3 linked regions of the Homo sapiens genome follow. The protein of the gene in region 1 purifies or fractionates together with the protein of each later gene. This does not show direct contact. Each region holds a gene or a part of one and is shown in the gene's direction. Other genes may lie near its edges.

Region 1 (4,051 bases):
GAGAGTAGTGGTTCTCGGGCCTAAGCAGGTCCTAGTCACCTAGAGAGCCTGATGAGCTGTGCACATTCCCAGGGCTGCCTGAGCTTTAGCCTTAGGGTTGCTAAGGAAGTTGCCTGGGAATTAGGAGCTGGAGGATCTTCATTTTTTTCAGATTTTTTGAGATGGAGTCTCACTGTTACCCAAGCTGGAGTGCAATGGCACAATCTTGGCTCACTGCAACCCCTGCCTCCTGGGTTCAAGCGATCCTCCTGCCTCAGTCTCCTGAGTAGCTACGTGAACGTGCCACCATCCCCAGCTAATTTTTGTATTTAGTAGAGATGGGGTTTCACCATGTTGGCCAGGCCAGTCTCAAACTCCTGAGCTCAAGTGATCTGCCTGCCTTGGCCTCCTAAAGTGCTGGGATTACAGGCATGAGCCACCGTACCTGACCAGGATCTTCATCTTTAACAAGTTCTGTAGGCAGCAGGGTCCTGGTACGGGTGACCTGCATCCCCTACCTTGAGCCCTGCCTATGGAGGAAGGACTGGCTTCTGAAGCTTTGGAGATAGCAATTGGTGTGCATGTGTGGTGGGTGAGAGCCTGGCTGACCACCACCCTCTTCTACAGTGTAACCTACAGTAGATTGCGTCATGAGAGTGTGTCCGCATCTGTAACGCCATGAAAGTCGTGAGGGTTAAAGGCATGGGCAGACAGCTTTGCACGGTGCTCAACAGCCACCATTTACTGTCATCATTGTGAATACCCAGAGGACAAATCATAAATACCAGTGAATGTTTACTGAGCACTTGCTGTGTGCTAAGTGTTTTCCTTGGGTTATCTCAGTAAAATTTTACAGCACCTAAAGTAGCTGCTGTTAAAGGCCTTTCTGACGGCCTTTCACGGTTGAGCCACAGAGATGTTGAGTAACTTGTCCAAGGTCACACAGCTACTAAGAGATGTACTTTTCCTATTCAGAGACCTAGGCAGGCTGGGAGTGGGAAAAGACAGAAACACTAAGGGAGTGGCTCAGTAAGAGGCAACAATTCCAGTGCCCACCAGGTGCCCCAAATGTTTCAGCATCATGGACAACTCTAGGGGGCTTGGGTTTCCACCCCAGAGACTTGCGCAGGGCAGACTCTACCAAGGTGTGGGTTGGAGTTGGGAGTCGGGGTGAGGTTCCCCGCTGGCTCCAGGCTGCTCCAATGGGGCGGGGGCCGCCCGCAGGGCCGGGCGGGGCTGTGCTGCCATCTGGAGCCGCTGCCGCCGGCGGCCACTGTCAGGGCGCGAGCGGCTGGAGCGCACGCAGGGCTGGAGCGAGTGCAGCCGCCGCCGCCGCCGACACCGCGGCACATGGGCCGGCCCCGCCGCTGCCGTCGCCCCTAGCCCCAGCAGCCCTGGTCTCGCAGCCTCCTGCGGCTCTGGTCGCCCGACCAGCCATGTCTCTCGGCGGAGCCTCCGAGCGCAGCGTCCCGGCCACCAAGATTGAAATTACCGTGTCCTGCCGGTGAGCGGGCCGCGCTGGGGAGGGCTTAGGCACTGGCACTGCCCCAGCCCCAGCCAGCCGCGGGGCTCAGCCTGGGCAGGGGCTAGACCCCCGGGGAGAGGCGAAATTGGCTGGAAAATCACAGCTGATGACAGGGCGAGTAGCTGGTGGGATCGAGAAGCGGGGGGTCTTGGGCAGCCCCACCCCGAAAAAAGGGCTCAGCCTGCGGGTTCAGGGGGTGGGTCGCAGATATCCGGTAGGAGCTCGGCCCCAGGAGGACAAAGTTCTGGGGCGAGCCCTCTTTCCTGGGCCCTTGGAGACAGTGTGGGTGCGTTCGCGTCCAGTCCGCAGAGCCATGGTTCCTGGACAGCGATTTCCGGTGCTGTCCAGAGTGCTGACAGAGCGGACCCCGGCTGGGGGTAGCCATGGGGGACAGAGGTTCGATGCGGGCCCCATGCCTCTCCTCAGTGCCCGGCTCAGAGCCGACTCGAGGCGGGCGGACTCCAGGATGATCCACTCTGTCTGTCTGTTGCTTTTCTCTAGGAACCTGCTAGACCTTGATACCTTCTCCAAGTCCGACCCCAGTAGGCGGCTCCAGGACCGGGAGGGGGAACTTGGGGTCTGGGCGCGACTCAGGGGCGGGTGGAGTCGGGGCCAGGGGTGGGAGCCGACCTGACGTCCTTCCCTCCCCGCCCCCACCTGCAGTGGTGGTGCTTTACACGCAGAGCCGGGCCAGCCAGGAGTGGCGGGAGGTGAGTCCCAGAGCCCCCTCCCGGCCCAGGGCGTCGCCCGGGAATTCCCCTGCCCGTCTGCACGTCCCACGCTGACCCTCCACCCCCCTACCCAGTTCGGACGGACCGAGGTGATTGATAACACGCTGAACCCAGACTTCGTGCGCAAATTCGTCCTCGACTATTTCTTTGAGGAAAAGCAAAATCTGCGCTTCGATGTGTGAGGCCCCGCCTGGAATTCTGGCTTGGCCCGCCCCCGACCTGGATCCGCCCGGAATTCTGGCTGGCCCCACCCCCGCCTCGCCTCCGGCCTGGTTCTTCTCGCAGGCCTCCCTCCCATTCTGAATGGCCCCCTCTAGCCTGAGCCCTGCCCTTTTATGAGATGCGGTCCAGTTCCGTCCCCCGCTCTGGCCCCGCCCACAACTCTGCTCCTATCGCAGCTCCACCTCAGGCCCGACCCCTTCCACACAACCCTGCCCCCAGCAGCCCCTGACTTGGCCTCGGCCCAGGCTTGACCGTCTGACTACTCAGCCCACCCTGACTCCTCCCCAAAAGGAGACCAAAGCTGAATTCGGGTCCACGGCCGCCCATCCCTCCACCCAAAATTTTCACCAAGACTCGGTGCCCGACCCCTTTCCACCCTCTCCCCCACCCAGCCCCACCCCACACCGGTTCCACTCTTTTCCCAGGTACAACGTGGACTCCAAAACCAACATCTCCAAACCGGTGAGCAAACGTTTCCTCGAGGGTTGGCGGAGCGCACAGGAGGCACTTAGATGTGTTCAACGACTCTCAGAACTCCTCCCAACCCTCGACCCAGACCCCATCTTCTTCAGGCCCCCAACCCACCCTCCTGGTCCCTCTCCTCCTGCCTGAGTGTCCTGCCTGTGCCCCCTACTCACTGTTCCTCTTCCTTCTTGGCTGCCACTGCTGGGACCTGCAGAAGGTGAGGCTGAATGGGGCTGGGCAGAGGTTGGGGGTGGGGGTGGTATTGTGGAGAACAGGCTTGGACTGATGACCCACTACAAGGCAGAGATTGCTCGCAGACCCCTTCTTTCACACCCCCTCCATTAAAGCCCATGTAGGGCCGTGGCTCTTGCACCACTCATTCGCCTGGGAACTGCCCTGGTCCTGTGCAGGAGCATCACTGGGGCTAGGCTGGGACTCAGCACTCAAGAGCTTCTGGTCTTGCTGACTCCTTGTCCTGCATAGGATTTCCTGGGACAAGCGTTCCTGGCCCTGGGAGAGGTGATTGGAGGCCAGGGCAGCCGAGTAGAGCGAACCCTCACGTAAGCTGAATAGGAAGGGGTGTGGGAGTGGGGTGGGGGCTTCCAAATTCTCCCTCCCAAGGATGCCGCTGACTGATAGAAGTGGAGGCTGGGGTTGCCCCTGGTCAGGAGCCTGCCCCGGCTCCCATCACCCTCGTAGAAAAGTCCAATTTCCAGTGCTCTGCCCGAGTCAGTATCAGGCCTGATATGTCTTTTCTTTTCTTTTTTTTTTTTCTCTCTCTCTCTCTGTTTCTCTCTCTCTCTCCTCACTCTTTTTCTAAGTCTGATTCAGCCTTTAAGGTCCACTTCCAAGCCCCTCTCCACAGGGAAGCTCCCCCGGACTAAGTCAAATCCTCAGGAATTACCATTACATCCACTCACTAAATATGCATTAGCATGTTTTATATCCCACACCCTGTTCTAGGCACCAGGGCTTCATTCATTCCACAAACACTATGTATACATACCCTATGTCAGCCACTGTTAAAGGGGATTAGCTTGCAATGGTGAACAAAACAAAGGTTCTTGTCCTCAGGGGGCTGATACTCTAGTTGTGTGGGGAGGACAGTACAAAATAGACATAAGTAAAT
Region 2 (3,500 bases), on another chromosome or scaffold:
AGCCTAAAACCTCCAAATATTTGTTGAATCAAACTCTACATTTGGTTTCTTAAATTTACTGAATTCCTGGAAACTGCTTACTTTAAACGAATTTAAAGGGGAAACATTCCTTTGTAATGAAATGACCCATCTGAAACTTTTCAATCTGGTCTCTGGTAGGTTCAGAGCATCATACGGTCAGTGTATTTAAGAGCCTATTGCCTGATGTTTAGGGAAAAAATCATAACATTTCAGAATGGCTTGTATACAGTTTTTGAAAATAATTCTAAGGTAGAGTTATTTCCCCCCTTTTATTCTCAATGAATCTATGGTATTATTTAGTAACAATTTCTAAGTGCTTAAGATAGAAGCAAAACGTTCTGAACTATAGATAAGATAAACTACAGATATTTGCAAAAAAAAGTTTTAAGAGAAAGTTTTGGGGAAAGCTTATATTTCAGCCACCTTTGATTATTTACCAATAACCAAATATAGAGATTTTGTGCATAACACCAGTAGCAGCAGCAGTATTTGGTTTTAGTGAGGGCAATCAAATAACTTGTATTTTACTAGGAACCATTTATTCATATGACTTGTTAAATTATTTTTTGCTCTTGATTCATTTTTTTGATGCCCTATACATTACCACTTTCTGTTCTGCATTGTCTAACTTTTCAACTGACTTGTTACTGGTTTTTATTTTTCCATAATATAAAAAGAAAGGAAATATTCATTCTTGGGGAAGTGGAGCACAATTCAGGGTAGAGGAAAGAAAAATTTTTGTATTTCTATTTCTTTGTTTTTCTGTTTGTTTTGCTTTATTTTTTAGGGTGTCACTATAATCTAAAGTAGAAGGAGCTACTGGTCTAAATTAAGATAGTATCAGATAGATTAAGCTCTAAATTTGGTTTCCAAGTGGTTGGACTTTTAAATTGCATTTGCAGGAGTTTATTTTTAGTCAGGATGTGGTTATTTTTAGATCTGCTTCTCTGTCACTAGGAAATAAAATGCCTGTCTTTCCATTGTTGATCAGGAAGTTCTAAGGCACAGGCATATAAGAGCCAGTTAGCCCAGAACACCACCACTCCTTTTAGATGAAAGAATATGAAATAACTCATGGAAGAAAATATGTTTGTTGAGAACATATCTAATTTTGAAATTGTTAGTGTCATTTTAATCTTTTGTACACTGAACAACAGAACAAGGTTTTTAGGGAATGCCAAAAATATAAGGTTTGGGTTCCCCCTACTGGTGTGCATCCCAGTCTCGTGTATTCATTAATACACAGCTGAAAGGCCTAGGGGCTAGAGATTAGAAATAGCTATATTAACTTCATTTAGAGACCTGATGATAAGAAAGAGAGAAAAAACTCCATTTCCCTTTTTCTGCATATGTCTTACAAAAATTGGGATGATTTTTAAATTGTATTTTCTACATTTAGAAAGAATAAAACTTAATTCTACCATATTTGGTTTATTGTTGTTGCTACTGATAAGCTGCTTATTTTCAGTGTTTCTCAAATGCTTTATGTTGTAATCTAAGGAATAATAAAACACCAGTGGATCCACAAAAGGATTTAAAATCCCAGGGAAGAAATGCAAAGCTAGCATTGTTGCCATAATAAAATTAAGGAGCTGGCATTAAAGCTCACTAATTCCTATTTTAGCATTTCAGAAAGTGACATGACATCATGTGATTGTGTCTGTCTATTCAACATTTGTTTTTTTTCTAATTTGTACAACATATATTTGAAACAGTTTTTTATTTCCTATCTCATAGTAAGTGTCAAGTGTCCATAATGGCTCATTTTTGGAAAAGAAATATTTTAATTGACTCTTAAAAGTCACTTTTGAACTTCTTATTATGTTTGCATTTTAAAGGACTATTCAATCAAGTTAAAATATTGTATTTTTTTAATTGCTTTTCAGCAATGCAGTCAACCTTTTAAGCAATGTTCCAGTCTCTTGTTTGGATGTTCTCATTTGTCCGTTAACCCATGAAGAAACAGCCCAAGAGGCAACGACTCTAGATGAACTGCCCAGTAATAAAACAGCTGAGAAAGAAACAGTTTTGAAAAACAATACCATGGTATACAATGGTATGAATATGGAGGCCATTCATGTTTTACTGAATTTTATGGAGAAGAGAATAGACAAGGTAAGGCTGATAAAATGGAAGCCCTGGGAAGATGCTTCCAAAGAATGTAAATGTGCCATACATACAGACACACATCACAGAGCATGATTTTTAAATCTAAGCTTTTTTTCTGACTGATGTGCTGCATAATTGTTTTTACTTTGGAAAGCAGTTTATTACAATATATGATAAATTGCTGAAGCCATGTTAATTTATTTGTTTAATGCTGAAAATTATGTTCATGCAACACCAAAATTATGACTAGTGCTTGAAAACAAAGGAAAAAGTAATTACTGTTCCATTTTGTTACTTTGTGAGTCCTAGAAATAAAAAATATCCCCCCAAAAACTTGCTAAATACTCTTCATAATACCTAAAAGACATCTTCCCAAAAAAAAGAAAAAAGAAGACCTTGTCAATTTCCCATTTGTTGTGAGCTGTTTATACATTCTCTGGTCTATCACTCACTTTGTCAGGTATCTGTATTAAAAGGCAGCAAGGTAGCATAGTCCAGTCACCAAAATTTTGCTTCATTCAAGCCCTTTGGCTAAGCCCATGGGAATCCTAGAAAATGTAGGAACATCCAGGAAGGACCAAAAAAGGCAATAGTAAACATGAAGATGATAAAATGGAAATGTTTTTAGGAAAAGAATTTTTAAAATAGTTTGTAAGCTTAGGTAACATAAGATGTCCCCACCTCGTGGATCACGAGGTCAGGAGATCGAGACCATCCTGGCTAACATGGTGAAACCCCATCTCTACTAAAAGTACAAAAAATTAGCCAGGTGTGGTGGTGGGCACCTGTAGTCCCAGCTACTCAGGAGGCTGAGGCAGGAGAATGGCGTGAACCCGGGAGGTGGAGCTTGCAGTGAGCCGAGATTGCGCCGCTGCACTCCAGCCTGGGCAACAGAGGGAGACTCCCTCTCCCAAAAAAAAAAAAAAAAAAAAAGTCCCCACCTCAAAAACAAATTGATATCCTCAGTTACATGAAGGAAAGTAATACTGTTAGAAACAAAACTAACGTATTTCAAAAACATATGGTTTTTTTTTTTATAGGGAAGCAGCTATAGAGAGGGTCTAACTCCAGTTCTCAGCTTATTAACCGAATGTTCCCGAGCCCATCGAAACATCCGAAAATTTCTCAAAGATCAGGTAACTGCTTAATGCATATTACATTGCAAAGTTAGTCTTTTTATGTGCATTTTAAACATAGAATTAATTGAATTTTCTCACAATGATTTTGTTTCAGATAATCAGAAACTCAGTCTTAATCTTTGAAATCTTCTTAATCAAGAAGTGTGTATTTTTTGAGTCATTCATTCAGCAAATGCTACCGAGATCTGCTGTGTGTGCTGTGTTTTGGGCATTGAACAACAGATGAAGTCT
Region 3 (3,500 bases), on another chromosome or scaffold:
GGGCAGGGATCAGGTGAGCATAGTTTTCCTTTCACTTTATTTTTAAAAATTATTGGGCCGGGTGCGGTGGCCCTGCCGCCTGTAATCCCAGCACTTTGGGAGGCCAAGACGGGTGGATCACCTGAGGTCAGGAGTTCGAGACCAGCCTGGCCAACATGGTGAAACCCCATCTCTACTAAAAATACAAAAAATTAGCCGGGCGCTAATTAGTGGTGGCAGGCGCCTGTAATCCCAGCTACTTGGGAGGCTGAGGCAGAAGAATTGCTTGAACCTGGGAGGCGGAGGTTGCAGTGAGCCAAGATCGTGCCATTGTGCTCCAGCCTAGGCGACAAGAGTGAAACTCTGTCTCAAAAAAAAAAAGAAATTATTTAGAGCACATTTTCCCCGCTTTTTGAACTTTTCTGCTTATGTGTCTCAGTTACAGTGATTCTTTAGTGTCTGCAGAACTGTTTGGAGTACATAAAAGTACAAAGTGAATGTTAATTCTGACCTTAGTGGCCATAATATGCTTGACTTTCCAAGCAGTTTTACAGATGCTTCCTTTTTACCTCCAGTACTCTCTATTTGCATAAGAGGAAATGAAGCACAAAGCAAAGGAACTTCTTGTCTAAGGTAATAGGGCAAGCCATAGTTAGGTCTAGAATTAAGCTTATTCCTGGGCAGCTGGAGGTCTTCCCTTCCAGGCCCTGTTTACAGATCCCATTGCGACTTATTTTCTGCTTAGCAGAGGACCTCCGTGATTCTTCTTGGTGTCAGCAGAGAAAAGATGCCCAGAATTCCTCTCTTGTCAGGCTCCTTGCCCCAGACCCTACTGACTATTTAGTCTGGATAGCTGGGATAACAGAGGTCGTCCTCTCTCCCCACTGGATCCTGTCAGACACATAGGCTTGTAACCATTCTGAAAGGGACTGGTTATTGTTCTCCAAGCTGCTTATTCCTTGTAACAGAACCTACTATTTTAGAGGAAGGCAGCCCTCACAACAATCCCAGAGTATATTATGGTTTCTTCCCCTGGTCACTCCTAGTTAGCAACTTCAATACAAGACCTGCTTACCTTCATCTTCATTATGGGATTATCTTTGCTGAAATGACAGCTGGGGTTGTTAACGATTATGAATTCAGCCCATACCAGCACTTGTCTCTGTCATCTTTGCAGGAAGCCCAGGTGGGCCTGGATGCATCATTAAAGAAACACTTTTCTTTGCTGAATGTAGGCTTTGTAAAGCCAGGTAATAATTCTTTTGTAGTTTGAGTTGAAGATTGAAGAAATCTCAAAATCATTCTTAAACTATTTTATACATATCTATTAAGTATCTTCTAAGGCCTGCCACTGTTGCAAAGCTCTTTTGGAAACTTAAAATCTGATCCCTGCCCCAAGGAGGAAAGATGGCATATACACAAATAACCTCCATGGGAAACAGTATTTGGAAATGTTGTAAGAGTGACATAAAGAAGAAGGATTTGCTCTCCAGATGCAGCTGTGCCTTCCTTTGAAATATCTTTCGTATCTGTTCTTTCCTTCCCATCCTTGCTGCTACCTCTCTAGTTGCGGGTCTTACCACCTAAAGGAAGGCATGGTCAGAGAGATAGGCAAACTAAGAGGTTGCGTATCAAGAAAGGGAGAGAGTTGATTAGCATTATCAAGTGCTACAGAGGCAGCAATGAATGCCAGGTTCAAAAAAAAAACATTCCATTTGTTGACTAGGAGATCATTGGTAGCCTTTTGAAGCTTTGATGTCAGGTACACATCTGGCCTGCTCTAATAAGATGAACCACTCAAAGATCACTTAATAATTGTAGAATTTCAGGAACCACATATAGGTCAATTTTGACAAGTGTTGAGTCTGTTTTTGAAGACCCAGATTCTTAAGACTCCTCTTTCCCCTCATCCTTTTATGTGGACTCAGTGAATTTTACCATGCCTTGACAACTCACACCCCACCCATGGCAATTAACCCACCCATGGCAAACCCACCCATGGCAAAGCGTAAGATGTCAGACATTTATTAACACATCTGTACACCCAAGCATCATCCTCGAATCCACCAGTTGGATGCTATTAGATTCATAGTGACTCCTCCTGCTGGAATTCTTTACAAATAGAAAGAGATCATAACTAGTTAAACAAGTTGAACAATAATCAGAAGACTAACCCAGATACACGGCCCCAAGGAGTCAGTTTCATCAGTGGTTTCCTTGCTGCTTCACCTCTGTTTATCACATCCTTTCTCTGTAAAATGGGAATAATGATACCTTCCTCATCCTACCTCAGAGAAATTTTGTATAGATAAATAAGACATTTAAAATTGTAACAAATGTAGAGGAATGTGCTCTTTAAGAATACATTCTTAATGTTGATATTTTAAAAGGGGGCAGTCTGGCCTAATCTATAGGATCTGGAACCTGGCAGGCCTGGATTTGCCTACTGACTCTTTTCCTTGTCTTAAAATGGGGATAATAATGGAATCTCTCCCATGGTGTAGTAGTGAAGATTAAATGAGAATTCAAGGAAATCATCGTGAATAGTGAGCATTACATAAATGTTAGCTAATATTAGTAGTTGCAGTAATAATTTTTTTAAGGGTCCCAGGTTGTAGTTGATTTATCATGAGATTTCTTTGAAAAAGAAGACTCATGCCTATAATCCCAGCACTTTGGGAGGCCAAGGTGGGCCAATCACTTGAGGCCAGGAGTTCGAGACCAGCCTGGCTAACATAGTGAAACCCCATCTCTACTAAAAATGCAAAAAATTAGTTGGGCGTGGTGGTGCACTGCTGTAATCCCAACTACTCAGGAGGCTGAGGCATGAGAATCACCTGAACCCCGGAGGTGGAGGTTGCAGTGAGCTGAGATGGCGAGAGTGAGACTCTATCTCTAAAGAAAAACAATTAAAAAAAAAAGTTCAGGGGACATAGGAGGAGTATTAAGTATTTTAAAATTATTATTATTATTTTTGAGACAGAGTTTCTGTCTGTCATCCAGGCTGGAGTGCAGTGGTATGATCTCGGCTCACTGCAACCTCTGCCTCCTGGGTTCAAGCAGTTCTTCTGCCTCAGCCTCCCGCGTAGCTGGGACTACAGGTACCTGCCACCACGCCTGGCTAATTTTTGTATTTTTATTAGAGACGGGGTTTCACCATGTTGTCTAGGCTGGTCTTGAACTCCTGACCTCAGGTGATCCCCCTGAGCCTCAAAGTGCTGGGATTACAGATGTGAGCCACCGTGCCCGGCCAAGGAGTACTAAGTCTTTGTGGAAGAGTCAGGAAAGGCTGTGAAGAGGAGCTGCCCTTTAATTGATTCTAAAGGATGAGTAGGAATTTTCCAGGTAAATGGAGGGAATAGTGAATGGGCAGAGGAAACCATTCTCACAGAGGCATGGAGGCATTGGAGACAGGAATATATAGTGGACCAAAAGTAATCCAGTAGGATGAGTGGAGAGTATGAGGTCCTGAGTGGTAGGAGGAGAGGCTGGGCAGAGGAAGGCAGGGCTCAGATTCTGAG

The links. Proteins that work in one complex are often made in the same cells at the same time.
Region 2: the proteins of CPNE9 (region 1) and RIC8B purify together in Homo sapiens (affinity purification with mass spectrometry; one large-scale study listed by BioGRID and IntAct). This does not show direct contact.
Region 3: the proteins of CPNE9 (region 1) and GTPBP1 purify together in Homo sapiens (affinity purification with mass spectrometry; one large-scale study listed by BioGRID and IntAct). This does not show direct contact.

Annotation. Positions count from the first base shown.
Region 1 is NC_000003.12:9,702,582-9,706,632, forward strand, and holds the start of CPNE9 (copine-9), read left to right. Parts: upstream 1-1,251; 5' UTR 1,252-1,415; coding exon 1,416-1,483; intron 1,484-1,591; exon of another isoform or gene 1,592-1,610; coding exon of another isoform or gene 1,611-2,005; coding exon 2,006-2,046; intron 2,047-2,167; coding exon 2,168-2,214; intron 2,215-2,309; coding exon 2,310-2,413; intron 2,414-2,882; coding exon 2,883-2,919; intron 2,920-3,136; coding exon 3,137-3,139; intron 3,140-3,405; coding exon 3,406-3,482; intron 3,483-4,051. UniProt on the Homo sapiens protein: Probable calcium-dependent phospholipid-binding protein that may play a role in calcium-mediated intracellular processes. Plays a role in dendrite formation by melanocytes.
Region 2 is NC_000012.12:106,840,682-106,844,181, forward strand, and holds part of RIC8B (chaperone Ric-8B), read left to right. Parts: intron 1-1,907; coding exon 1,908-2,136; intron 2,137-3,170; coding exon 3,171-3,266; intron 3,267-3,500.
Region 3 is NC_000022.11:38,708,944-38,712,443, forward strand, and holds part of GTPBP1 (GTP-binding protein 1), read left to right. Parts: coding exon 1-13; intron 14-1,156; coding exon of another isoform or gene 1,157-1,229; intron 1,230-3,500. UniProt on the Homo sapiens protein: Promotes degradation of target mRNA species. Plays a role in the regulation of circadian mRNA stability. Binds GTP and has GTPase activity.